7 linked regions of the Homo sapiens genome follow. The protein of the gene in region 1 purifies or fractionates together with the protein of each later gene. This does not show direct contact. Each region holds a gene or a part of one and is shown in the gene's direction. Other genes may lie near its edges. The genes, in order: TMEM63C, LCLAT1, ZDHHC18, RHBDD1, UGGT1, RAB10 and PLD1.

The links.
Region 2: the proteins of TMEM63C (region 1) and LCLAT1 purify together in Homo sapiens (affinity purification with mass spectrometry; one large-scale study listed by BioGRID and IntAct). This does not show direct contact.
Region 3: the proteins of TMEM63C (region 1) and ZDHHC18 purify together in Homo sapiens (affinity purification with mass spectrometry; one large-scale study listed by BioGRID and IntAct). This does not show direct contact.
Region 4: the proteins of TMEM63C (region 1) and RHBDD1 purify together in Homo sapiens (affinity purification with mass spectrometry; one large-scale study listed by BioGRID and IntAct). This does not show direct contact.
Region 5: the proteins of TMEM63C (region 1) and UGGT1 fractionate together in Homo sapiens (co-fractionation; one large-scale study listed by BioGRID). This does not show direct contact.
Region 6: the proteins of TMEM63C (region 1) and RAB10 purify together in Homo sapiens (affinity purification with mass spectrometry; one large-scale study listed by BioGRID and IntAct). This does not show direct contact.
Region 7: the proteins of TMEM63C (region 1) and PLD1 purify together in Homo sapiens (affinity purification with mass spectrometry; one large-scale study listed by BioGRID and IntAct). This does not show direct contact.

The regions. Positions count from the first base shown.
Region 1 is NC_000014.9:77,247,798-77,251,297, forward strand, and holds part of TMEM63C (osmosensitive cation channel TMEM63C), read left to right. Parts: intron 1-549; coding exon 550-712; intron 713-969; coding exon 970-1,075; intron 1,076-1,493; coding exon 1,494-1,661; intron 1,662-3,500.
Region 2 is NC_000002.12:30,641,986-30,644,725, forward strand, and holds the end of LCLAT1 (lysocardiolipin acyltransferase 1), read left to right. Parts: 3' UTR 1-2,240; downstream 2,241-2,740. UniProt on the Homo sapiens protein: Exhibits acyl-CoA:lysocardiolipin acyltransferase (ALCAT) activity; catalyzes the reacylation of lyso-cardiolipin to cardiolipin (CL), a key step in CL remodeling.
Region 3 is NC_000001.11:26,829,688-26,833,187, forward strand, and holds part of ZDHHC18 (palmitoyltransferase ZDHHC18), read left to right. Parts: intron 1-2,759; coding exon 2,760-2,920; intron 2,921-3,500. UniProt on the Homo sapiens protein: Palmitoyltransferase that catalyzes the addition of palmitate onto various protein substrates, such as CGAS, HRAS and LCK. Acts as a negative regulator of the cGAS-STING pathway be mediating palmitoylation and inactivation of CGAS.
Region 4 is NC_000002.12:226,842,554-226,846,053, forward strand, and holds part of RHBDD1 (rhomboid-related protein 4), read left to right. Parts: intron 1-3,500. UniProt on the Homo sapiens protein: Intramembrane-cleaving serine protease that cleaves single transmembrane or multi-pass membrane proteins in the hydrophobic plane of the membrane, luminal loops and juxtamembrane regions.
Region 5 is NC_000002.12:128,171,200-128,174,699, forward strand, and holds part of UGGT1 (UDP-glucose:glycoprotein glucosyltransferase 1 precursor), read left to right. Parts: intron 1-5; coding exon 6-85; intron 86-1,373; coding exon 1,374-1,563; intron 1,564-2,581; coding exon 2,582-2,740; intron 2,741-3,500. UniProt on the Homo sapiens protein: Recognizes glycoproteins with minor folding defects. Reglucosylates single N-glycans near the misfolded part of the protein, thus providing quality control for protein folding in the endoplasmic reticulum.
Region 6 is NC_000002.12:26,107,084-26,110,583, forward strand, and holds part of RAB10 (ras-related protein Rab-10), read left to right. Parts: intron 1-2,684; coding exon 2,685-2,823; intron 2,824-3,500. UniProt on the Homo sapiens protein: The small GTPases Rab are key regulators of intracellular membrane trafficking, from the formation of transport vesicles to their fusion with membranes.
Region 7 is NC_000003.12:171,677,984-171,681,483, reverse strand, and holds part of PLD1 (phospholipase D1), read left to right. Parts: intron 1-3,500. UniProt on the Homo sapiens protein: Function as phospholipase selective for phosphatidylcholine. Implicated as a critical step in numerous cellular pathways, including signal transduction, membrane trafficking, and the regulation of mitosis.

The DNA.
Region 1 (3,500 bases):
TTTCACCATGTTGGCTGGGCTGGTCTCAAACTCCTGACCTCAGGTGATCTGCTCACCTCGGCCTCCCAAAGTGCTGGGACTACAGGTGTGAGCCACCATGCCCTGCCGTATTGCCCACATTCTTAATGCAAGAAAATGCTAAATTTCAGTTAGAGATTAGTGAAAATAAAGATGTTATTTTTTCCCATCCTAGTTTACAGACCCCCCAGAAACCCACTCATGGATTCTCCCGAGTCTTTGGACCTGGCTCAGACACCCTTGCTTTGGATCAAGCCAATGCATGTATCCCCTAACACACCCATGCTTTATGTGGTCCCTGCCCCTCCCTGCTCAGGGGACTGCTTGTTAACTTCATTGGGTTGGGGACATATATATTATAGGAGAGAGACAGAGAAAAAGAAAGAGAGGAAATGTTATTCTCCTTGTCTGTATCTGTATCTCCACTCCGATTCCCATTCCCTCTGCTGCTCTCCTCTCTCTCCTCCCTTTTAACATCTCTCCCTCTCCCTGTGGCTTCTGTTGCCACCTTCCCTCTCCCTCACTGCCCAGGTGTGTGTTCCTGCCAGACAACGGCGCCTTCTTTGTCAACTACGTGATCACGGCAGCTTTACTTGGCACAGGCATGGAGCTGCTGCGTCTGGGGTCACTCTTCTGCTACAGCACCCGCCTCTTCTTCTCTAGATCAGAGCCAGAGAGAGTCAACATCAGAAAGGTACAGACTGGCTCTCCGCTGAGCACAGCCCTCAGTTTCCTTTGGGAGGGTGTCAGGGATAGAGCCTGCTAGAAGCACCAAGGGGGTTGAGGTGGGAGGGACGGTGTGGATGGGTGTTGGTGGGGCACCTTGGTCTACAGGGTTGGAAAGGAGGCTGCCTCCAGGCCTGAGCTGCCAGGAGGCTGATGAGGAGCCACAGAAGTAGTCAAGCCAAGGGGACTGGGCCACCTCAGGGTGACACCTGCCTTCTGCCCCAGAACCAGGCCATAGACTTCCAGTTTGGGCGTGAGTATGCGTGGATGATGAACGTGTTCAGCGTGGTGATGGCGTACAGCATCACTTGCCCCATCATTGTGCCTTTTGGTGAGTCATCTCCAAGGCATGCCCAAGGGCTGCACATCCGCAGATGGGGAGGAGGAATTGAGCCTCACAACATCAGTCCACCTCCTGGAGCATGGGGAGACCTGTGGTAGGGAGGGGTCAGGGCCAGGGCCAAGCTGGGGGTACAGGGCAGCTGAGGTTGGATGGCTGCCGATGGGGGATGTTTGTTGAATGAACGCATGAGAGAATGACTCTTCACCAAGCTGAAACAGTCAGTTCTCGGGGCTCAAGGGAAGCTGCTGGCTCCGGAGGTCAGTACCACGGAGCTCCCCCAACCCATCCTTGGTTGTTGTGACTCTGACAGCCGTGGATCTGGCTTCTCAGGCCTGTGGAGACACTGGAGCCACAAAGGTCCAGACTTGAAGGGGCCACTGAGTAAGTTTCCACCTTTGTCCCCCAGGGTTGCTCTACCTGTGCATGAAGCACTTGACGGATCGCTATAACATGTACTACTCCTTTGCACCCACCAAACTGAACGAGCAGATCCACATGGCTGCCGTCTCCCAGGCCATCTTTGCGCCACTCTTGGGTCTGTTCTGGATGCTGTTCTTCTCCATCCTGCGGTTGGGTAGGTACCAAGCCAGCCTGGAGACCCCACCTCCACCTGCCCCACTGTTCTGTGAGTCCCTTAACACTGACCCTGTTAGAGGAGAAAAGCCCAGGCAGGGCAAGACGCTGCTCACCAGACCTGGCCACACCCAGTGACTTCTCTGGGCCTAAAGGGCCTACATTAGAGTCTCAGCTGAGCTTCAAGGCTAAGAGGAGGCCCTGGACCAACATGGTCCCCAGGTGTGGATTTGGGTTTCCAGCGCTCAGGGAAGGAAACCTCATATTCCTTCTTTCTAAGTCTAGACGGGTGGAAAATAGAGTATCAGCTATTGGGAGGCTCAGTTCCCATGACATTTCCTCTGGGATCCCATAAGATGCCTGGTTTTTTGTTTTGTTTTTTAATTTTATTTTTTGAATCAGAATCTTGCTCTGTCGTCTAGACTGAAGTACAGTGGCGCGATCACGGCTCACTACAGCTTTGACCTCCTGGTCTCAAGCAATTCTGCCACTTCCCCCTCCCCAGTAGCTGGGACTACAGGCGTGAGCTGTCATGACTGGCTAATTGTTTTTAATTTTGTAGAGATGAGGTCTCACTATGTTGCCCAGTCTGGTCTGGAATTTCTGGGCTAAAGCGATCCCCTGGCCTAGGCCTCCCAAAGTGCTGGGATTATAAGCGTAAGCCGCCGGTGCCTAGTGGTAGATGCCTGGCTTTATGGGTTGCCAAAAAACCTGGAAGAGGAAACAGAGCCTGCAGTAGGGGCCAGCTTTTTCCTCACTCTTTAGCTACACACAGCTACTGCTCCTGCCCAGGGGAGCTCAGAGACACCCTCCCAGAAGCAGTCCCTGCAGGCCACAGATTAGAAATCTCTCAGCTTTCTCCCCGTTGGAGGCACCTTAACCCCCAGCAACCCCCAACCCCACTGCCCTTCCCTCAGACACCTGACCTTAACCTTCTCAGTGGTGGGAGAAGGGAGACGCGGTGTTTTCTTTCTTTTTTTTTTTTTTTCTTTTGTTTTTAGAGACGGAGTCTCGCTCTGTCGCCCAGGCTGGAGTGCAGTGGCCTGATCTCGACCCACTGCAACCTCCGCCTCCCGGGTTAAAGCTATTCTCCTGCCTCAGCCCCCTGAGTTGCTGGGACTACAGGCGGGTGCCACCACGCCCCGCTAATTTTTTGTATTTTAGTAGAGACAGGGTTTCACCATGTTGCCCAGGCTGGTCTCGAACTCCTGAGCTCAGGCAATCCGAGGCAGTGTTTTCTTTTCTCTCCCTGCCATGGTGGCATCCATACGGTCGACTCTCAGTCATTTATGTGGCTTACCCATTTGCCATCACCCCCAATTGCTTATCCCGCTAGCCTTTCCCTGCCACCCCAGAGACTTCATTTTTTCCATAATGCTTTTTTTCTAAGAATAAAGGACTGCATGTTTATCATCAAAAATAGAAAAAATATAAAGACCAACATGTAAATGACCCATCATCTTACCCAGAACCTGATGTCTTTTGTTCCCAGCCCCCTTTCCAGGCATGCGCTTTGGGGCTTTGGGCATGGGAACATTGAGAGGGAGCAGTTGGTCTATTGTTACTTTGCAAAACTGCGATAGTCCATATTGTAACATTCAGTCCTGTACCCTGAGGTTTTGTACTGAACACAATGTTCTGAGCAATTTCCTAGGTTGTTAAAAGACTGAACACGTAGGTGCCTTTCAGCGGTTGCATGAAAGTCTACCAGTTTTAGTCAGTTCTCCGTGATTGGATATTGAGGTTTGCCACTTTTTGCTACTATAAAAACACTGCAGTAAGCATCATTAAGCAGTGATTTTTGGCTGTAAAGCATAATTTAAACAACATTTACCTAGTT
Region 2 (2,740 bases), on another chromosome or scaffold:
AGCAAACCTGTTAGTTTTACTTCTGCATTGAACCAGCCTCAGAAGCTACTTACTGCTTTATGTACTCTTTGGGCATTAATGCCTTCTCTGTAATTATATCTCGTTTTTGCTTGACAGTGACCTACCCAATAATTGCATCGTGCATTGCCATGAAAGGTAAACACATTGTGAACTGAACTTACCAAGCAGATTCTGTGAGAAAGCACTGGTTGAGGCTGAACACTGTTGACACATCATTTTTATTGGAAGAGTATTAACTGGTGCCTCTTCTGAAACACACCAACCCATATTCCTCTGCTCCCCCAAAGCTGTTTCTGATCCTGCTGGGAGCAACTAACTAGTTATTATGCACATCTGCTCCAGACCCAGCTCTTTAACTTCATGGTTTTACAGCTTGTTTTTTCTTTTTCTTTTCTTTTTTTTTTTTTTTTTTTAAAAAAGCACCTTTTTTTGTTGTTTCCCCTTAATAAAAGAGGTTTCTAATTTATGTTTCTCTAAGATTTCCTTTGGTTGTATTTAGAAACACAAATAGTTTTATAATCAGGATTGCATTTGTGCTGGGTAAAAGAGGAGAGCTGTGCTTTCTACCCCAAAGTTGTTGGTAATGGAGCCGGTCTGCCCTTCCTACAAACTCAAGAGGCTCATTGTTCAAGGTGTAACAACATTTAATTGCATGTCCTCTAACGCTTTGAAACCTTTAGAGGGAAGATCCTCATTTTTTACAATTTTGTTCCTTTTCATCATAGAAAACATGTTTAAGATAAAATACAAACTTTACCTACCCCAAATTCATAAAGTACATTTAGTGCTGTATAGCACTAAAACTTAGAGATACAGACACTGTACTTACTTTTTAAGAATTAGAGACAGTAACTCCAAAAATAATTGTCCTTTTTTCTTTCTTTCTTTTTTTACAATAAGGCTCTTGAAAATTGTCATTACTTGTGTTTTCCTATACATTCATCTGTGTGAAAGCCTTTTTCTTCTTTGATTTAAAAAAATTAACTATACAGTTAATGGTTTAGAACTTAGAACTACTTAGAATTAATGCTAAAGTGTCAGGAAGAAATTAATTTAGCTTCAATAATTGTGACTGGCCTCAGGAATTCTCCCTTCCACACCTGCCCACCTCACCTCACTGCACCGCACCGCACCAGAGCCAGAGCAGCTGCTTGTCTGCAGCAGGACACAGTTCCTACATACGTTTCAGTTCTTTCATGGTAAGCTCAATGGACTTTGAATTGTTTACAGTGCTGTATGTCCAATTGTTAAATGTACCATTCTGAACGATGTTAAAGCAAGTGTGGTTTATTTATGGCATGAACCATGTAACTTGAAATATGAACTTACAAGGAGGGGCACTCATTAGGTAACAAGTTCTTACACCAAACTTCCTTGATGAAATAAGCCAAAATAATCCTAAAATTCATTAGAAGAACTTGATAAAAGACTCAAATAAATGTTAGAAAGAGCCCGTAATTTTAGGACTCCTATAAAATTCTTCCTTGTTTGTTAATGCTATTAAAACTCAGATTCAAGGGAAATACCAGCTTCCACTTGAGTCACTTTGAAATAGTTAATTCAACAGCACCATGTTAGAAATATATTGGCAGCCAAGACTCTGAACTCTGCAGAAACATTTGTTTCACCCAGACTTCAAACTCTAGCCCTGACTATGATGCCCCTGTGTGCATTTACAATAAAGACTCCAACGGAGGGAGCCTGTTGGTGTTAAATTGTTTACATTTCTTTATACAAATAATGTGCTTTCAGTGCCTTAGTTACAGCTCCCTTTCTGTTTCTTGTTCCAAGGATTCTGTAGTATGTAGTGTGTTTCTTAGGTAAAGTCTCTTTTTGCTACTGAAAGGGAAATGGTCTCTAAACACTGGTCACTGTAGCAGGTAAACACTACTCTAACGTGGAGAAATGAGCTTCATGCTGAGGTAGTGGTTGCCTTAGAGCTGTTATTTATGCTGTAGAAAACGAAAATGGTTTTGCTACCTGATAAGCTTCAGATTAGATATAGCCCTAAAGTTATCCTGTACCTGCATTAAATTTTCATTTTAGAAGAGAATCTTGGTTTTGGTAATTCATTTTTTTTTAAGATCATTATGTGCAAAACACCAAGTTTTAAAAATAACTCACAGAATGGCCTTAGTTTTCAATGTCTGATGGTATATTTGTGAGTTGTGTTATCTGTAATATACATCCCAGAATAAAGGAGTGAATTAAATAGTTTACATGTGTGTTACGTTCTGTTTTTGCAGGAATAACAAGTAACTGCAAGTTAAGGTGCTACTTTTTTCCCCACAATGCCTTGCATTGCAGTGTCTAGTGTTAAGGAAAAACCTGGCCAGTTAGGTCTCTTTTTTCCACAGATGTCAAGAAAAGTGGCCTAATCAAGAAAACAATGTACTACCTCCATAATAGGAAAAGTCCAGGCACCACAATTGAATTAAGGACTCAACGAATGTCATCAGAACTTGATTTTCCTCCATCTCTTAGCACAGCCTTGCTATTGAGAACAATTTGGTTGTTCCACAAATGTGGGATCTTATATAAATATCAGCATGACCAACTCTTACCTAAGATAAGTGGGACTCTGTGCTCCAGTCCCTGACCTCACGTTGGGGAGTATATAACTATAAAAGCAAATCTTGGACCAAAATCTGACAAATGTATAAAAATGTGCTTAGCAAACAGACAAACACATGAGAATCACGGAGCCTCTTGTAATGGG
Region 3 (3,500 bases), on another chromosome or scaffold:
CCTGGTATGCAGTAGGTGCTCAATACTTATTGAATGAATGAATTGACAGTGTATTTGAATTAATTGACAGTGTATTTGCTGGGAGGCTGGAAACCCTAGTTCTGTCATTGGCTGGCTAGATGACCTTGAACCTAGCTGTGGGCCTGGGAGAGCTGTTAGCCTCTGGCAAATCAGGAGGCTAGGACTTGGTGGTTCCTGCAGGCTCTACAAGTCTTAGATTTCAAGTCTTCTCTGTCCCCCCACACAAGTCTGATTGCATATGAACTGGATTCATTGCCATGTGGGTGACACTGAGCGCCCACTGGTTCTGTTTGAGGGTCAGACCCAGAAACCATTGAGATGTATGGAGCAGAGTGTGACCCACTGGGAGCCCTTGGCCTTGGCAGTCTGCTCCTCAGGGGAAGGGCTTCTCTGAAGGCCAGAGCATCTGATGACGGAGACTTCAGAAGCAGCATGCAGGTGCCCACAGGTGTGTGCCTACTGTGCCACTCCTGGAAGCTTGGTTGATCTCAGGCCTCCCAGGGCCCCGTCATCTCCTTACCTGATCAGGTGCTACTCTGGCTATGGGGTGATGGTTAAAAGTATGAACCTCAAAGTCAGACCTGGCTTGGGTCCCACTTTAGCACTCCTGAGCCATGTGACCTTGGGCAGATTACTTAAACTCTCTGAGCTCTAGTTTCTTCATCTGTAAAGTGGGGAGCATAACTTCACAGGGTCCCAGTGAGGATTTGATGAGAAAGTACACAGGAACTGCTTAGCCTGGTACCTGGCCCATCCAGGTACAGTAGTACAGTAACTATCTGTAGATAGTACAGTAACTATCTACATAGTACAGTAACTATCTGTACATAGCACAGTAACTATCTGTACTTTGGATGTTGCTAACAGTAGTTTATTAATTAGGGCAGTGTCTGGCACATAGTAAGCCTTCAAAAGATGGTAGCTATTTTTCTGTCCCCTGGCAGCAGTTATTTACCGGGTACGTCCTTGGTGCCAGGTGCTGTGCAGTGTGCTGGAAATATAAAGCTGAACAAGAGAACATAGTCTATACCCACAGAGGAGCTTATGTTTTTTTATGTTTGTTTGTTGTTGTTGTTGTTGTTGTTGTTGTTGAGATAGAGTTTTGCTCTTGTTGCCTAGGCTGGAGTGCAATGGCACGATCTCGGCTCACTGCAACCTCTGCCTCCCGGGTTCAAGTGATTCTCCTGTCTCAGCCTCCTGAGTAGCTGGGATTACAGGCACATGCTACCACACCCTGCTAATTTTTCTGTTTTTATTAGAGATGGGGTTTCATCTTATTGGTCAGGCTGGTCTCGAACTCCTGACCTCAGGTATCCGCCCACCTCAGCCTCCCAAAGTGCTGGGATTGCAGGCGTGAGCCACTGCGCCTGGCCAAGCTTATGTTTTAGTGAGAGAAAAATAGCCATCACATAGACAAGTAGCTGAAATCTATACTAAATGTTATACAGGAAAGAAAGAGCATTGAAGTTCACTGTGTACAGAGTTGTCAAGGTAGGTCCTTCTGAGGAGGGAAGAGGAATCTGAGAAAAGGAACAGCAAGTGCAAAGGCCCTGAGGTAGGAGAGAGCCAGGCTTGTTATAGGAACTGTCATGGGCTATTGTGATGGGAGGAGCAGGAGCAAGACGAGAGTTTTGTAGAATGAGGCTGAAGTCCTCAGTAGGGCCCAGATCATGCCTGGCCTAGAAGGCCATGGTAGGGAGTTTGGATTGTATTCAAACTATATGGAAAGCAATTGGGAGGTTTTAAGCAGGGAAATGACATGATCTGATTGACATTTCCAAAAGTGGCTCTGGCTTCTGGGTGGACAGTGAGGTGACAACAGAGAGGATTGGCCATAGAGAGAGAGCCCTGATAGCTTCACTATCATGAAGCCATTCTCCCACCAGTGTCCAGAACTTCTAGAATGTTCTAGCCCTAAGATGGAGGAGGGAGCTTGAAGAGGGCTGTGGTAGGCAGCCTCCCTGGGGGACAGAGGCATGACCATTCAGCAGGCACAGGCTATTCTCTGAGGCAGCCAGGGTCAGGGGGTCTGAAAGCACTGCCTTGGGGATACCTGCCTACCTTGGGTCACAGTGACAGTGGCTGGACCATGCAGTTCCCCCAGCCCTCTACTCATTCTTCAGGTTGGAGCTTAGGATTGTCTCCTTCAGGTTGCCTTTCCTGACTGTGCTACTGCGTTCCCCTCCCCCACTAGAGCACACATCACCCTGTGTGGCAATTCCCTGTTTACATGTCTTGTTTTCCCCACTAGACCATAAGCCACAAGGGGGAGGGACTCTTGTCTTATCCGTCGTCATTATTCCTGCTGCTTATTGAAGGTGTTGCCTGCCACAGAGAAGACCTCAGTAAATATTTGTGGACTGAGTGAGTGAATGAATGAGTGAATGAACACTGCAGGATGGTTTGTCTCAGGTGACAGTCCACTAGTGTCTGCCTGAAGCTCTGTGTGTAGAGGGATTCTCTGGATGCAGAGGTTAGGAGTGCTGGGATCTATTGGACACATCTGCCATGTGCTCTGGAGGAAAGTATATCACAAGGATCAATTAGTGATGTCTGTTCCCGGTACTTATTGGGGAGTGGCTGCACTCATCAAGGAGCTGTGCCTCTGCCTCAGAGCGAGGCTGTATTCAAGATTTTGGTGGTGGTTGTTGGAATGACAGCGCCTGCCACGTGCTGTAGCCCTGTGCCGCAGGGAGCCCTTGGGGTGTCTGCTGATCTCTCTCCATCTCTCGTTCTAGCTGTCCCTACCTGGCTCGCAAGCTGACCCTTGCCATCCCCATCATCGCTGCCATCCTCTTCTTCTTCGTCATGAGCTGCCTGCTGCAGACAAGCTTCACCGACCCTGGGATCCTGCCCCGGGCCACTGTCTGTGAAGCAGCCGCCCTGGAGAAACAGATCGGTGAGGTTTCTACTCCCAGCTGAAGCTGGGTCTCCATAGCTCCACATTCCCTGACTTGGGAGGAGGCCTGGTTTTCTCTTCCAAAACTATACTAGGAACTGGGGATGCAGTCGTGAGCAAGGCAGGCTGGAGCTGACACTGGCACAGAGGGAGACAGATGATCAACAAGTGAGCAAATAAGTAAGCAAGAAATGCTGGCCAGCCAGCAAAGGCCCCGATGGCAGCCAGCGTGGAGCTGAGTAGTTCCTGGGGGCTAGGCACTGTTTTAAGCTCTTTATATGCATGATCTTATTTAATCCCCCAGTAATCCTATGAGGTAGGTACTGTTGTCATTCTCCTTTTACTGATTAATTAAATCAAGGCAAAAGAGGGTCCAAGATCACAAAGTAAGTAGAAGAGCTGAGATGAGACCTCAGTCTAGAGCACCTGCTCTTAAACATTCATATACACTTATTCATTCACTCATCAAACATTTATTGACCCCCTACTATGTGCCAGGCACTTTTCTAGATGTGATACAGCAGTGAACAAAACTGACAATAGTCCCTGTCCTCATGGAGCTTGACAGTTGAGGAGGAGG
Region 4 (3,500 bases), on another chromosome or scaffold:
ATTTCTTGTTTTGGCCAGGTTTGTCAAAGATCAAGTTGTTGTAGTTGTGTGGTCTCGTTTCTGAGTTCTCTATTTTGTTCCATCTGTCTATGTATCTGTTCTTGTACCAGTACCATGCTGTTTTCGTTACTGTAGCCTTTTAGTATAGTTTGAAGTCTGGTAGTGTGATGCCTCCAACTTTGTTCTTTTTGCTAAGAATTGTTTTGGCTACTTGGGCTCTTTTTGATTCCATAAAATAGTTTTATCTAAATCTGCGAACAATGTCAATGAAAGTTTAATGGGAATAGCATTAAATCTATAAATTACTTTGGGCAGTATGGCCGTTTTCATGATATTGATTCTCTCTGTTCATGAGCATGGAATGTTTTTCCATTTGTGTCCTCTCTAATTTCTTTGAACAGTGGTTTGTAGTTCTCCTTGAAGAGGTCTTTCACTTCCCTTGTTGGCGGTATTCCTAGGTATTTTATTCTTTTTGTAGCAGTTGTGAATGGGAGTTCATTTATGATTTGGCTTTCTGCTTGCCGGTGTTGGTGTATAGGAATGCTAGCAATTTTTGCACATTGATTTTGTATCCTGAGACTTTGCTGAAGTTGCTTATCAGCTTAAGAAGCTTTTGGGCTGACACAATGGGGTTTTCTAGATATAGGATCATGTCATCTGCAAACAGATAATTTCACTTCCTCTCTTCCTATTTGAATACACTTTATTTCTTTCTCTTGCCTGATTGCACTGGCCAGAACTTCCAATACTGTGTTGAATAGGAGTGGTGGGAGAGGGCATCCTTGTCTTGTGCTGGTTTTCAAGGGGAATGCTTCTAGCTTTTGCCCATTCAATATGATATTGGCTGTGGGTTTGTCATATATGGCTCTTATTATTTTGAGGTAAGTGCCTTTAATCCCTAGTTTATTGAGAGTTTTTAACATGAAGGGATGTTGAATTTTATCGAAGGCCTTTTCTGCATCAGTTGAGATACTCATGTGGTTTTTGTCTTTAGTTCTGCTTATGTGATGAATCACATTTATTAATTTGTATATGTTGAACCAACCTGGCACCCCGGGATGAAGCCAACTTGATCGTGGTAGATAAGTTTTTTGATGTGCTGGTGGATGCAGTTTGCCAGTATTTTGTTGAGGATTTTTGCCTTGAGGTTCATCAAGGATATTGGCCTGAATTTTTCTTTTTGTTGTTGTATCTCTTGCCAGGTTTTGGTATCAGCATAATGCTGGCTTCATAGAAGGAGTTGGGGAGGAGTCATTCCTTTTCAATTGTTTGGAATAGTTTCAGCAGGAATGATACCTGCTCTTCTTTGTACCCTGGTAGATAGAATTCAGCTGTGAATCCATCTGGTCCTGGGCTTTTTTTGGTTGGTAGGCTATTTGTTACTGTCTCAATTTCAGAACTCATTTATTAGTCTATTCAGGGATTCAATTTCTTCCTGGTTCAGTCTTGGGAGGGTGTATGAGTCCAGGAATTTAGCCATTTCTTCTAGATTTTCTGGTTTATGTGCATAAAGGTCAGCAGCTAAGTGAGCTCTTGAGGTTTGGGGAGACTTGGTAGATCTGGAAAACTCTTCAAATTAATGCTGTGAGAACCAGCTTCAAAAGTTGTTGGTCACATAGTTTCTCAGCACAACTTTTAAATTCCAGGGAAATAGTTATTATTCCAACTTTGGTCACTATCACCTTGGATCAGTATTGGAAATGGCACCCTTGATTGATAGCTGCCCCCCGCCCCCCGGCCCCTTGCCAAAGACCGCATCCAATGGGAGTGGGAGACAGATTCCTGTTACTGAAAGAATGAAGTATTGATGCTATGCAGGCAAAAAGCCCTAAGCTGTTCCCTATCACTTAATAATTTGTGGACATCCCATGTGGTTTGTGGTAATATAACATATATTTGAAGCATGGCATGCTTTTCCCCCTTTTCACTAGTTGTTGTGCAGGGAAGACTTGAGTTACATAAATAATTCACAAACACTTCTTACACAGATTAATTTAAATGAGAGCAGGGAGTGGTGGTAGCTCTCATTTTTTCATTGACTTTAGGTAGACAAAGAAATCTGGTGCAGAGTAAACCTGAATATGGAACTACTTAAATCCTGTTGAAGGAGCGATCATGGGACGCTGGCATTGCTGTTCCCTGTGTGCCTCCTGGTTTAAAAACCTAGGTCTGAAGGGCTGTCAGTTGGAGAACTTTAATGAGCCCTCATTACACTAAACCGTGTGGTTTATGAGAGAAGAAACTGGCTTATGATTGATACTGGAAATCATAAATGGTGATGGGTCAGAATTGGAGTTGGCACTAATTCACCTAGCAGTGGAGCAAAATTTAAGATTATATACAAAATCTGGTAATTTCATTTTTTAGCCATTATTTTTTATGTATAAATATAGTCTAATCATTTTCATTTATACTATATAACACTTTTAAAAGGTGGAGAAAGAATTTTGCCAGCTGATGCTGACATTTTTTTTTTCTTCCTAAAATGGAGGCTTATTAAATTCTCAAATCATCAGATAATCTTGACAGAGATCCTGGTTTGAGATTTTACATAAAGTTTATTTTAATGAAAAACATAATTTCTGCTTTCAGGTTTCTTCTCTATATTTGTTATACTTTTTAAAAAATGCATGTGTAATTTAATCACACTATGCAGTTTTAAAATGTAGGGTCACAGAAAGTCATGGAAAATGCTAATTAGTTACTATGTTATCACAAAAACATTTTAAAACTATTTTAAGTCTGATTTGTCACAATTTGTGATTTTGTGTAATAAATATATATACATATATAATCCCATTTAATCCTTGTGAAACCAAATGAGCCTATGTTATCTTTTACAAGTGAAACTCTGAAGGTTAACTTTCCTAAGAGCACGTGGCTGGTGTATCGTAGAGCCAAGGACCATGCCCTTAACTGCTGTCCTATGCTGCATATGTTAATATTGCCACCCTTGTATATAATTTTGGCAAAAAGCACTGGGACATTTCTTTTCCCAAAGCCCATCTCTTTACTTTCAGTTCCCTGACAACTTCTTTATATTCTGAAACTGTTAAAATGTGTTGTATTATCCATCATCTTGTGCTTCTGTTTGTTGGGAATGTGGCAACAGCTCCTGTATTGCAGCAGTGTGCCCTGTGAAGCCATTTGTTCTTTATGTCTTAGAGCAGCCTGACAGCCTTTCGTGTTAAATTCAGCAAGATTGCTTTTCATTTAACAAAGCTGAATGTTGCTTTCTAGGTGAAAAATAATTAAATGCTTTTAAAGATATATTTGATTAACAGGAAGCTGATCTGTGTAAATTAATTATAACCATAATGATGTCATAGCCTTGTCTTTTGTTATTAGCCAGGTAATTGACCAGAAGTTTAGAAGCTTATTGTAACTGACAGTTAGTAGTTTGACCTTGTGTGCTGTCTGAAAGTGAAACATGCACAATGAATGTAAATGCAATTTGTTCATTGAGCTGCATGTGCTGTCAGAACATCTGATCTTGGGTT
Region 5 (3,500 bases), on another chromosome or scaffold:
TCTAGGTTTTGGCTCAGCTGATAAACATGAATCTGAGAGTATTTATGAACTGCCAATCCAAACTTTCTGACATGCCTTTAAAAAGGTAAAACATGCTATGTAAGAAAACAGTTGAAGAAATTGTACTGAATCCAAGTTCTGATATTGCATGTTAGAGGATCAGATGGATTTATAGGTGGACATCATGTTTGAAATGGTCATTTACTAAATGTTCAGTTTTGCCAAATTTCATTCTAATCAGAAGTTCTAAGAACATAGTGTGTTTGTAGCATTTAGGTGGCATTAACCCAGGCTGCTTGCATTTGTGCCTTTTCTTTCTTTTTTTCGAGATGGAGTCTCGCTCTGTCGCCCAGATTGGAGTGCAGTGGCATGATCTTGGCTCACTGCAGCCTCTGCCTCCCGGGTTCAAGGGATTCTCCTGCTTCAGCCTCCTTAGTAGCTGGGATTACAGGTGCACACTACCATGCCCAGCTAATTTTTGTATTTTTAGTAGAGACGGGGTTTCACCATGTTGACCAGCCTGGTCTCGAACTCCTGACCTCAAGTGATCCGTCTGCCTCACTTCCCAAAGTGCTGGGTTTACAGGTGTGAGCTACCACGCCTGGCCCCATTTGTGCTTTTCATCTTAAAAGAAGAATATTCATTTCAAGTTGGAATATACATGTTAGAGGAAGCTTGCTTAGCTATATATTGTCATGAGCTTTGGAATGGTCATTTATGAAAAAAGTGATACAGAAAGCAGTTAGCGTTGTGGCTATGGGAAATTTCTAACTTGCCAGTGTGCTGTGTTTTATAGGTTAGCTTCTAAGTGGATTGAAACAGCATTTGAAAGTAACCAAAGGGTTCCCAGCTTCCACCATTATTCTCGTATAGGGGAAATGTTTACATTATTAGTGTTTTCAGGACTAGCCTGAGAGCCCAATCAGTATTTAGGAATTGGTTTTAAAGAGAAAAATGAGTCCTCCTTGAAGGGAGGAAAATGCCCAGGACCTAACTGTGACCCTGACAGCCATCCATGTGAACGAGTGGCCTCCGTTCAAGTGATTGGATTTTGGCTTGCAGGTGGACAGTATAGTGGCTGCTGAGTATGAGCTAGAGTACCTGTTACTAGAAGGTCATTGCTACGACATCACCACAGGCCACCACTGAGCACTCCTCCTCAGTGCTGTCCTTGTTTGCCTTTTCTTGCATCTGCAGCAACCACAAGGAGGCATCATAAGGTCAAAGATGGTTTTGGAAACACTTTTCCCAATCTGGAAGGGTACTCCTCCAAATCTAATTTGTTTTAACCAGTTGTTACCTGTGTAAGGGCTGTGCACTCAAGTCCTGTTGTCACATCGAAAATTATCTAACACTTTCCTTTTCAATTTCAGCTTTTACCGTTATGTCTTAGAACCAGAGATTTCTTTCACTTCAGACAATAGTTTTGCTAAGGGTCCAATCGCAAAATTTTTGGATATGCCTCAGTCTCCACTGTTCACTCTGAATTTGAACACACCTGAGAGCTGGATGGTAGAATCTGTCAGAACACCATATGATCTTGATAATATTTATTTAGAAGAGGTAAGACCATATCTATTGCTTCCAAATACCTAATCATGTATAATACAGCAGATTGAATCATAGTCTAGGTGGGCCTCTGAGACATCAGTGTTCAGGTATGATATTTTTTTAAACAACAGCTTTATTCACATGGAACTCATATACCATAAAATTCTCCCCATTAACGTGTACAGTTGAGAGGTTTTAGTATCTTCACGGAGTTGTGCAGCCATCACCACTATGTAATTGTAGGATGTTTTCAGCATCCCCAGTGAAAGCCCCATACTCATTAGCAGTCACTCTTCATTTCCCCAGCCCCTGGCAACTGCTGGTCTACTTTGTATCTCTATGGATTTGCCTATTCTGACATTTTGTCTAAATAGAATCAAATGTGGTCTTCTGTAACTGGCTTCTTTCACATAACAAATTGTTTTCAAGATCCATCCATGCTGTAGTATGTATCGACGCTTCACTCTTTTTAACTTGCCAGATAATATTTTATTTATGGACATATCACGTTTCATTTATCCTTTCACGAATGGACATTTGAGTTGTTTTCACTTTTTGGTTGTTATGAATAATGCTGCTATGAATGTTGTGTGCAAGTTTTTCTACTGATACGTGAGTACAGGATGTCTTTGCATTTAGGTCTTTAATTTTTTTCAACATTTAGTATCTTATCCTCGTTCGTATTTTTAGAATAACGTCCTTATTGTTTTTTTCTCCTTTCTCTTTCCAACCTAGTTTTTATAATTGTATACAGTCATTAACCACCACTATAGCCACGATGCAGAACATTTCCATTACCCCAAAAAGTTCTTTTATACCCCTTTGCAGACAGTAGCCTCCTCTCGCCTGGTTTCAGGCAACAACTGATCTGCTTTCTGTCATTATACTTTTGTCTTTTCTTGAATTTCTTAAAATATGATCATATATTATGTAAGTCCTTTTTGTCTGCTTCCTTTACTTTGCATAATGCATTTCAGATTTATTCATGTTGTCTCTGAGTGCATTCAAGTGATTGGATTTTGGCTTGCAGGTGGACAGTGTAGTGGCTGCTGAGTATGAGCTGGAATACCTGTTACTGGAAGGTCATTGCTACGACATCACCACAGGCCAGCCTCCACGGGGACTACAGTTTACCTTAGGAACTTCAGCCAACCCGGTCATTGTGGACACCATTGTTATGGCCAATCTGGTAAATAATCTGTTCATCAGATAGTGATATTGTAGTTACGTTAATTTGGGCACTATAATTTATGATGGAGCAATTAGCATTCTTAACCATAGAGTGAGATTAAAATTCATTATGGGCTGAATTTGGTCAATATAGAAATCATTAGTTCAGCTAAATTTGTAGGTTAGAATTACATGTCAAAAGAAAAAACATGCTGGAATACTCAGCTATAACTGAATTGGCCCCCTGAAAATAGATTGCTCATGAGCTGACAGCCTTTTTCTTTTCTTTGGAAGTGCAACACTTATTCATGCATCACACGTTGATTCTTCCCTGAAGCACAGCTAAAGAGCAGATGATTTATTGGTGTGACTGGCCTTTATTGTACTAGTTTTTTTTTTTTTTTTTTTGAGACTCCTGCCCAGGCTGGAGTGCAGTGGTGTGATCTCAGCTCACTGCAACCTCCGCCTCCCAGGTTCAAGCAATTCTCCTGCCCCAGCCTCCTGAGTAGCTGGGATTACGGGCACCCACCACCATGCCCGGCTAATTTTTGTCCTTTTTTAGTAGAGATGGGGTTTCACCATGTTAGCCAGGCTGGTCTCGAACTCCTCACCTCAGTTGATCCACCTGCCGTGGTCTCCCGAAGTGCTGGGATTACAGGCGTGAGCCACCGCACCTGGTCTGTGCTAGAGTTTTTAATGTGTAGTTTTGGTTTTTTAAGAGTTGCATTGATTTGTTTACTGTGTTATTCACATTATAGTTGATTGATATTTCAGAAATA
Region 6 (3,500 bases), on another chromosome or scaffold:
AAAAATATAAAAATTAGCTGCATGTGGTGGCACGTGCCTGTAATCTCAGCTATTCCAGAGGCTGAGGCAGGAGAATCTCTTGAACCTGGGAGGCGGAGGTTGCAGTGAGCCAAGATCGTGCCACTACACTCCAGCCTGGGCAACAGAGCGACACCCTGTTTCAAAAAAAAAAAAAAAAAAAAGACTAGGTGAAGAATTCTTAGACATAACACTAAACACATGATCTGTAAAAGAAAAAAAAATCAGTAAATTAATTAGACTTTCACAAAATTAAAAGCTTCCTCTCTACAAAATACCCTGTCAAGGGAATGAAAAGACTAGCTACAGACTTGGAGAAAATATTTACAAGCCAGTGTATCTGACAAAGGACTTCTGTATAAAAAGAACTTTCAAAAGTCAGCAGTAAAAAGACAAAAAAACTGACAATCCAGGCCAGCCACGGTGGCTCACGCCTGTAATCCCAGCACTTTGGGAGGCTGAGGCGGGCTGATCACCTGAGGTCAGGAGTTTGAGACGAGCCTGGCCAACATGGTGAAACCCCATTTCTACTAAAAATACAACCGTTGGCTGGGCGTGGTGGTGGGCGCCTGTGATCCCAGCTACTTGGGAGGCTGAGGCAGGAGAATCACTTGAACCCAGGAGGCAGAGGTTGCAGTGAGCCGAGACTGTGCCATTGCACTCCAGCCTGGGCGGCAAGATCGAAACTCTATCTCAAAAAAAAAACCCCAAAAACAAAAAACTAACAATCCAATTAGAAAATGGGCAAAAAAAAAAACCAGACATTTCACCAAAGAGGACATGTGGATGGCAAATAAACACATGAAAAAATGTTCACCATCTTAGCCACAGGGAAATACAGATTAATGTGATGATGAAATATTACTATGTGCCCTCTTAGAACTACAGAAATAAAAAAGTGACAGCATCAAATGCTGGTGAGGATGCAGAGAAACTGGATCTTTTATATGTTGCTAGTGCAAATGTCAAGTGATAGAGCCACTCTGGAAAAAGTTGGCCAGTTTCTTACCGTTATACACTTACCATATTACCCATAAATAACATTCCTGGGCATTTATTTCAAAGAAATGAAAAATTATGTCCACATAGAAACCTGTAAATGAATATTCTTCGAACTTTGTTATAGCCAAAAACTGGAAACAACCCTGAATGTCCTTCCATGGGTGAATAATTAAGCAAATTGTGATACAGACATACCATAGAATGCTACCCAGCAATGAAATGGGACAGACCAGGATTATGTGCAAAACTTGAGAGGACTTCAAGAGCATTATGGTGAAAGAAGTGTTAAATGCCGATTTCAAAAGGTAGCATACTACATGATTCCACTTACGTAACATTCTGGAAATGAAAAAAATATAAACATAGAAAACAGATTATTGATCAGAGTTTAGGGACTATGGGGAGTAAAGAGGTGATGTAATAGTTCTTTGTCTTGTGGTAGTTACACAAATCTGTACATGTAATAAATTGTAGAGAACTATATATACACACATACACAAATAAGTGCATGTAAAAAAAAAAAACCCTGAAATCTTAATAAGGTCTGTAGATTGTATCCAATGTCCATTTTCTGGTTTTGCTATTATGCTGCAGTAATATAAGATGTTATCATTAGGAAAAGCTGGGTGAAAGGTACCCAGGACCTCTCTGCACAGTTTTGTAACTTCCTGTAAGGCTGTAATTATTTCAAAATAAAAGTTTTAAAAATATTAACTCGAAAGAGGAGCAGGGATAGTTGGAGAGATACAGGGTTGAGATTGGGGTCTTTTGCTTTATATTTATTTATTTATTTATTTATTTATTTATTTATTTATTTATTTATTTTGAGACGGAGTCTCGCTCTGTCACCCAAGCTGGAGTGTAGTGGCACCATCTTGGCTCACTGCAACCTGTGCCTCCTGTGTTCAAGCAGTTCTCTTACCTCAGCCTCCCGAGCAGGTGGGATTACAGGCACGTGCCACCATGCCGGGCTAATTTTTGTATTTTTAGTAGAGATGGGGTTTCACCATGTTGGCCAAGTGTCTTGAACTCCTGACCTTAAGTGATCTACACGCCTCAGCCTCCCGAAGGGCTGGGATTACAAGTGTGAGCCACTGCGCCCGACCTTATTTTTGCTTTTTTAAAAAAGATACTAAAACATGTTTGTAAGCTGATGAGATGATCCATAAAAGAGCAAAATGATGATACAAATGAGAGGGCATAGTTACAGGAGCAAAATACATCTTACACCTTTGGCTTTAAGCATTAAATAATGGAAAATACTACTATTTACATTTCTGTCTTATTATTTATAAGTGAGGTTATCTTTACAACTTTTGGTTAATGATTCTAAATGTAAATATGACTGTACTATGGTATAGTTCTCTAATGTTCTAAAAATCCTACCTGCTTTTGTGTTACATTATGGAACTAAATTATTAAATAAAATGAAATTTTAAGAGTTTCTATGGTGTTTGCTAGTGCTTATTCAATAAACTTGAGTTTTATGTGTCACTTCCTACTGTTTTCCCTTTCAGATTTTCATCCAGTATGGGTAGGTTATTAATTTCCTTCAACTAAAAAGTTTTTATATATACTTAGGAAAAACTATTCTTGTTTTGTCCTTTATGTGAAATGTAGTAATATCAAAATGCTTAATAGAAATTATTGGCTGTTTATTTCAGGGATACAGCAGGCCAGGAGCGATTTCACACCATCACAACCTCCTACTACAGAGGCGCAATGGGTATCATGCTAGTATATGACATCACCAATGGTAAAAGTTTTGAAAACATCAGCAAATGGCTTAGAAACATAGATGAGGTAAGACCTAGAACTTGTATAAACCCTTCATGAACACACATTTGTGTGCTTGGTTAGGAAGAATAAATATTCCAACTGATCTTCAGGATATAATGTACTGTTGAAGTCATTATTATTGAAGTATTTCTATTTTCTAAAAGTTAATGTTGGCCGGGCATGGTGGCTCATGCCTGTAATCCCAGCACTTTGGGAGGCTGAGGTGGGAGGATCACCTGAGGTCAGGAGCTAAAGACCAGCCTGGCCAACATGGTGAAACCCCATCACTACTAAAAATTATAAAAATCAGCTGGGTGTGGTGATGTGCACCTGTCGTCCCAGCTACTCAAGAGTCCAAGGCAGGAGAATCTCTTGAACCTGGGAGGTAGAGGTTGCAATGAGCCAAGATTGCGCCACTGCACTCCAGCCTGGGCAACAGAGCAAGACTCCGTCTCCAAAAAAAAAAAAAAAAAAGTTAATGTTGTTATTTGCTAATTTTTTCTTAAGTTTTTGGACAGTCTATCTAGAGCCCCATTCAAGACAATTAGTAAATTACTCCAAAACTCTGTATAGCCATCTTACAAGATGACCCCAAATAGAAGCTACCAGTGATTTTACAATGATTTTCTGGAAATGAATTTTTTCTTAATAAATTTTTATTGAATGAATGAAATGTCCGGTAGTAATTTTTTAAAACTTTA
Region 7 (3,500 bases), on another chromosome or scaffold:
CTACATCTTAAGACCCAGATATAGGAAATGCAAAAGTATTTATTTCGGCATCTCAGACTGAGTGTAGAATGTGGTAAATACATATAGGTCTATAATCTCTCATACAAAATCCTTGGAATCAGATTTCAGAAATCAGAAAGTTCTGGATTTTAGAAAGGTAATACAATACCTATACCCTCTACTATATTACACTCCCAGCAGGATCCAGGAAATACCTGGAATGTAGGCAAACCATTTATGTTTGTGCAACACCAAGTGGGATCAATAAAGATAATAAATAACCTCTTGTCAGTTCAGGTCAGATTTTGCTGACCTGTGAGTTATGAAATGAGCTGTGAAAATCAGCTATGAAAAAACATTTGAATTGTTAGAACTTTTGGAGTTTTGGAATTGTGGTTAAGGGCTGATTTGTGCAGATTGAGCTGGTGGGATATATCTGTAGCAGTTTACGGAGGACTTTGAAAATCAGACTGAGACATTGCACCTCTTCCATTAAATGTTGGAAAATCCCTAGGGGCAGGGAGCAATTAAGGGTGAGGCTTTATAGCGTTTATAGTAGAGACACAGGGAGTCTGACAAGGTTGTGTCAGTGAGTTCAAGAACGAAGTAAATGGGAGAAACTTTTTCCAAAAGCAGAATCAGCAGATTTTCATCATGATCTGGGAAGCCGTGGGGAGGTGGGTGGAGAAGTCAGCGAAGAATAAAGGAGCCAAAGGTGATTCCGAGGTTTGAGCTTGAGTTACTACACACAGACAGCAGAAATCTCAAGGAAAGACTTGATTTTATGGAATGATGATGATTTTAGTGTTAGACATAATTTTAAAGTTCTGGAGGGAACTAGGTAAACAATGTCAAGTGAGGCACTGGAAGTGACCTTAGATTTGGAGTCCAAAACAGAAGCCATCCTTGCAGGTGCACATTTTAGAAATTGTATAGAAAAAGACAGGAGAGGCCGGGTGTGGTGGCTCACGCCTGTAATCCCAGCACTTTGGGAGGCCGAGGCAGGCAGATCACGAGGTCAGGAGTTCGAGATGAGCCTGGCCAACATGGTGAAACCCTGTCTCTACTATCAAATACAAAAATTAGCAGGGCATGGTGGTGTGCGCCTGTAATCCCAGCTACTCGGGAGGCTGAGGCAGGAGAATTGCTTGAACACTTGGCCCTGGGAGGCAGAGGTTGCAGTGAGCCGAGATCGTGCCACTGCACTCCAGTCTCAAAAAAAAAAAAAAAAAAAAAAAAAAGAGGAAGAAAAAGAAAACAAAAAGACAGGAGAAAGGGGGAAACCTTGTTAGTGAGGAGGAGCTAGGAAAGAAGAACAAGGATAGGCTGGAGAAATGGTAGAAAAATGGAGACCTGGAAGCCGAGAGATGAGAATAGAAGGAGGAGGATGTGGCACGACCAGAGGACACCAGGCAAGGAACAAGAAGTCCCCCTTCTCATAAACTTTAGTAGCCAGAATCTGAGCCACTGACAGAGGAGGATGCAGAAAATTGGCCTGACAAATCTGTGCCAAAAGACAAGGCAGGTGCAATTATGAAATCATTTGGGAGCCAGATAGCAGCCTAACGAGACCCCCTTGGATCAGCATTGTTGATGCCATAAGTCCTCTCGACCACACTCATGTAATTCTGAGCTACTGTTTTCACAGGAACTAGTATTTGGCTCTATTGCCTTAATAGTTCATTTGTACTGAGGAGGAACCCTAATTTATGTGGAATAGTTTTTAGGCCATGGCTAAAAACAAAAACAAATTTGAATTATGAGCAGGTTGAATTCAATTAGTACCAAGATAATTTCCTGAGACTAAGAATTTCCTTTATTTTCCTTATCATAACTGGTTGTTAGGTGAAAGATAATTTTTAAATGAGTGTATATGTGTTTATGTAAAGCCTTAGCTTAGAGTTTTGCAGTTGATGAAAGCAAATTGTATATGTGTATTTTATATTTGAAATTTGAAATATTGTTTATCTCATTTTTCATCCCTTTTGTTTCTTTTCTCACCCTCTTTTCTTCTTTTAACAAAGTGCTATGTAAACAATAAAGAGCCTATAGATGAGCAAACAGACCTACCCGTACTTTGGCCTTTCAGTCTCATAAAGCAGGAAAATAAATCACTGGGAGAAGTCAATAGAAGTCTATTTTTAACATGATTTCATTTTGCTAATCTATGGCATTTTAAATCATTTTTCTTCTGTAGAAAACTTTAATAGCCTTTGAAAGGTTAATGATTCAGTTTGAGATAGAATATTAGCATTGTGTGTGGTGATTACATAAAAACATTTGTTCTGCAAATATTTATTGATTGCCTGGGTGCTTGGAGCTACTGGCAGTGAGAAGATTTGGTTCCCACTCCCAAAGAGTTTATAGACTGGTGAGGCATTGATGCGGGCAGGGGAGCATCCTGATACAATTGCGTCACAGAGTCAGAGGTGTTGGGGCAGTTGTTAGTGGGATGACAGCAGTGCTAGTGACTGCCTCTTCCTTATGGGGAGATGGCAGGTGATAGCTAATGTGGCTCTTGAAGGATGATTAGGATATCAGGCCAAGAGGGAGAAAGGAGCATTTCAGGTAGAAGTAATAATGTGCCAACTGCATGGAGACATGGCAGTCCACACCTGTTATAATACAGTGAAACACGTGATTTGCATGGGGCCTGGGGTTGGGTGGGGAAAAACAAGGACTAGAAAGATAGATTGGCACCAGTTTGGGAAGAGTCTTCTATGCACACTAAGCCCTTAGGACTTGAGCTTCCTATAGGCAGTATGTGAACCTTCCAGGGTTTTAAGCAAAGAGTGCATTTTACAAAGACAGTTCTGGGACAGTGTGTTGGTGGCAGGACCAGTGTAGTCCTCTCACTGGCTACTGCAAGCAGTACCATTTATTCATTCAACACATATTTTTGCATTCAGTGTCTATTTGTTAAATGCCTCTTTTGTGCCAAGTGCTGCGTTTGTGATTTGTAATTCTGCATCTTTTTACTTCATTGTCTTTGTATTTAGCCGTAAGTCAATGGTCTCGGCACAGTTATTTGTGAAATGCTATAGTAGATTGCTGCTTTTGCACCTATATCATAAGCTTTCATCTGTTGTTACCATATTTTTTATAAATGCCATCTATGATTTGAAGTATATAAATGTTAAAGCGCAACAGATTTTAGCTGTTATCTAGGCCAAATTCTTCATTTTACGCATAATGGATTTATGATCTAAAAAACTGAAGCTCAGTGTCACTTAGCTAATTAATTCCAGGGCTGGAACATGGGCTATCTGTAAATTTGAGGTTCTTGCTTTAATGCAAAAGAATTATGCATCAGGTGTGCACCATGTTGGTTGAGGAAAAAGAAGTGGCATGGTGTCTTTATTGCCCCTGCGTCTCAGGTTTCTCCACCTCTCCCCTCCCCGCCCTTCCCACTCTGCCCCTGAAAGCCCCCCACCAGCTTTACTGCTCTCATAGTGCCACCTTGTGAGTTCTTTATTCACAGTTAATTCTGTGATAGTTCT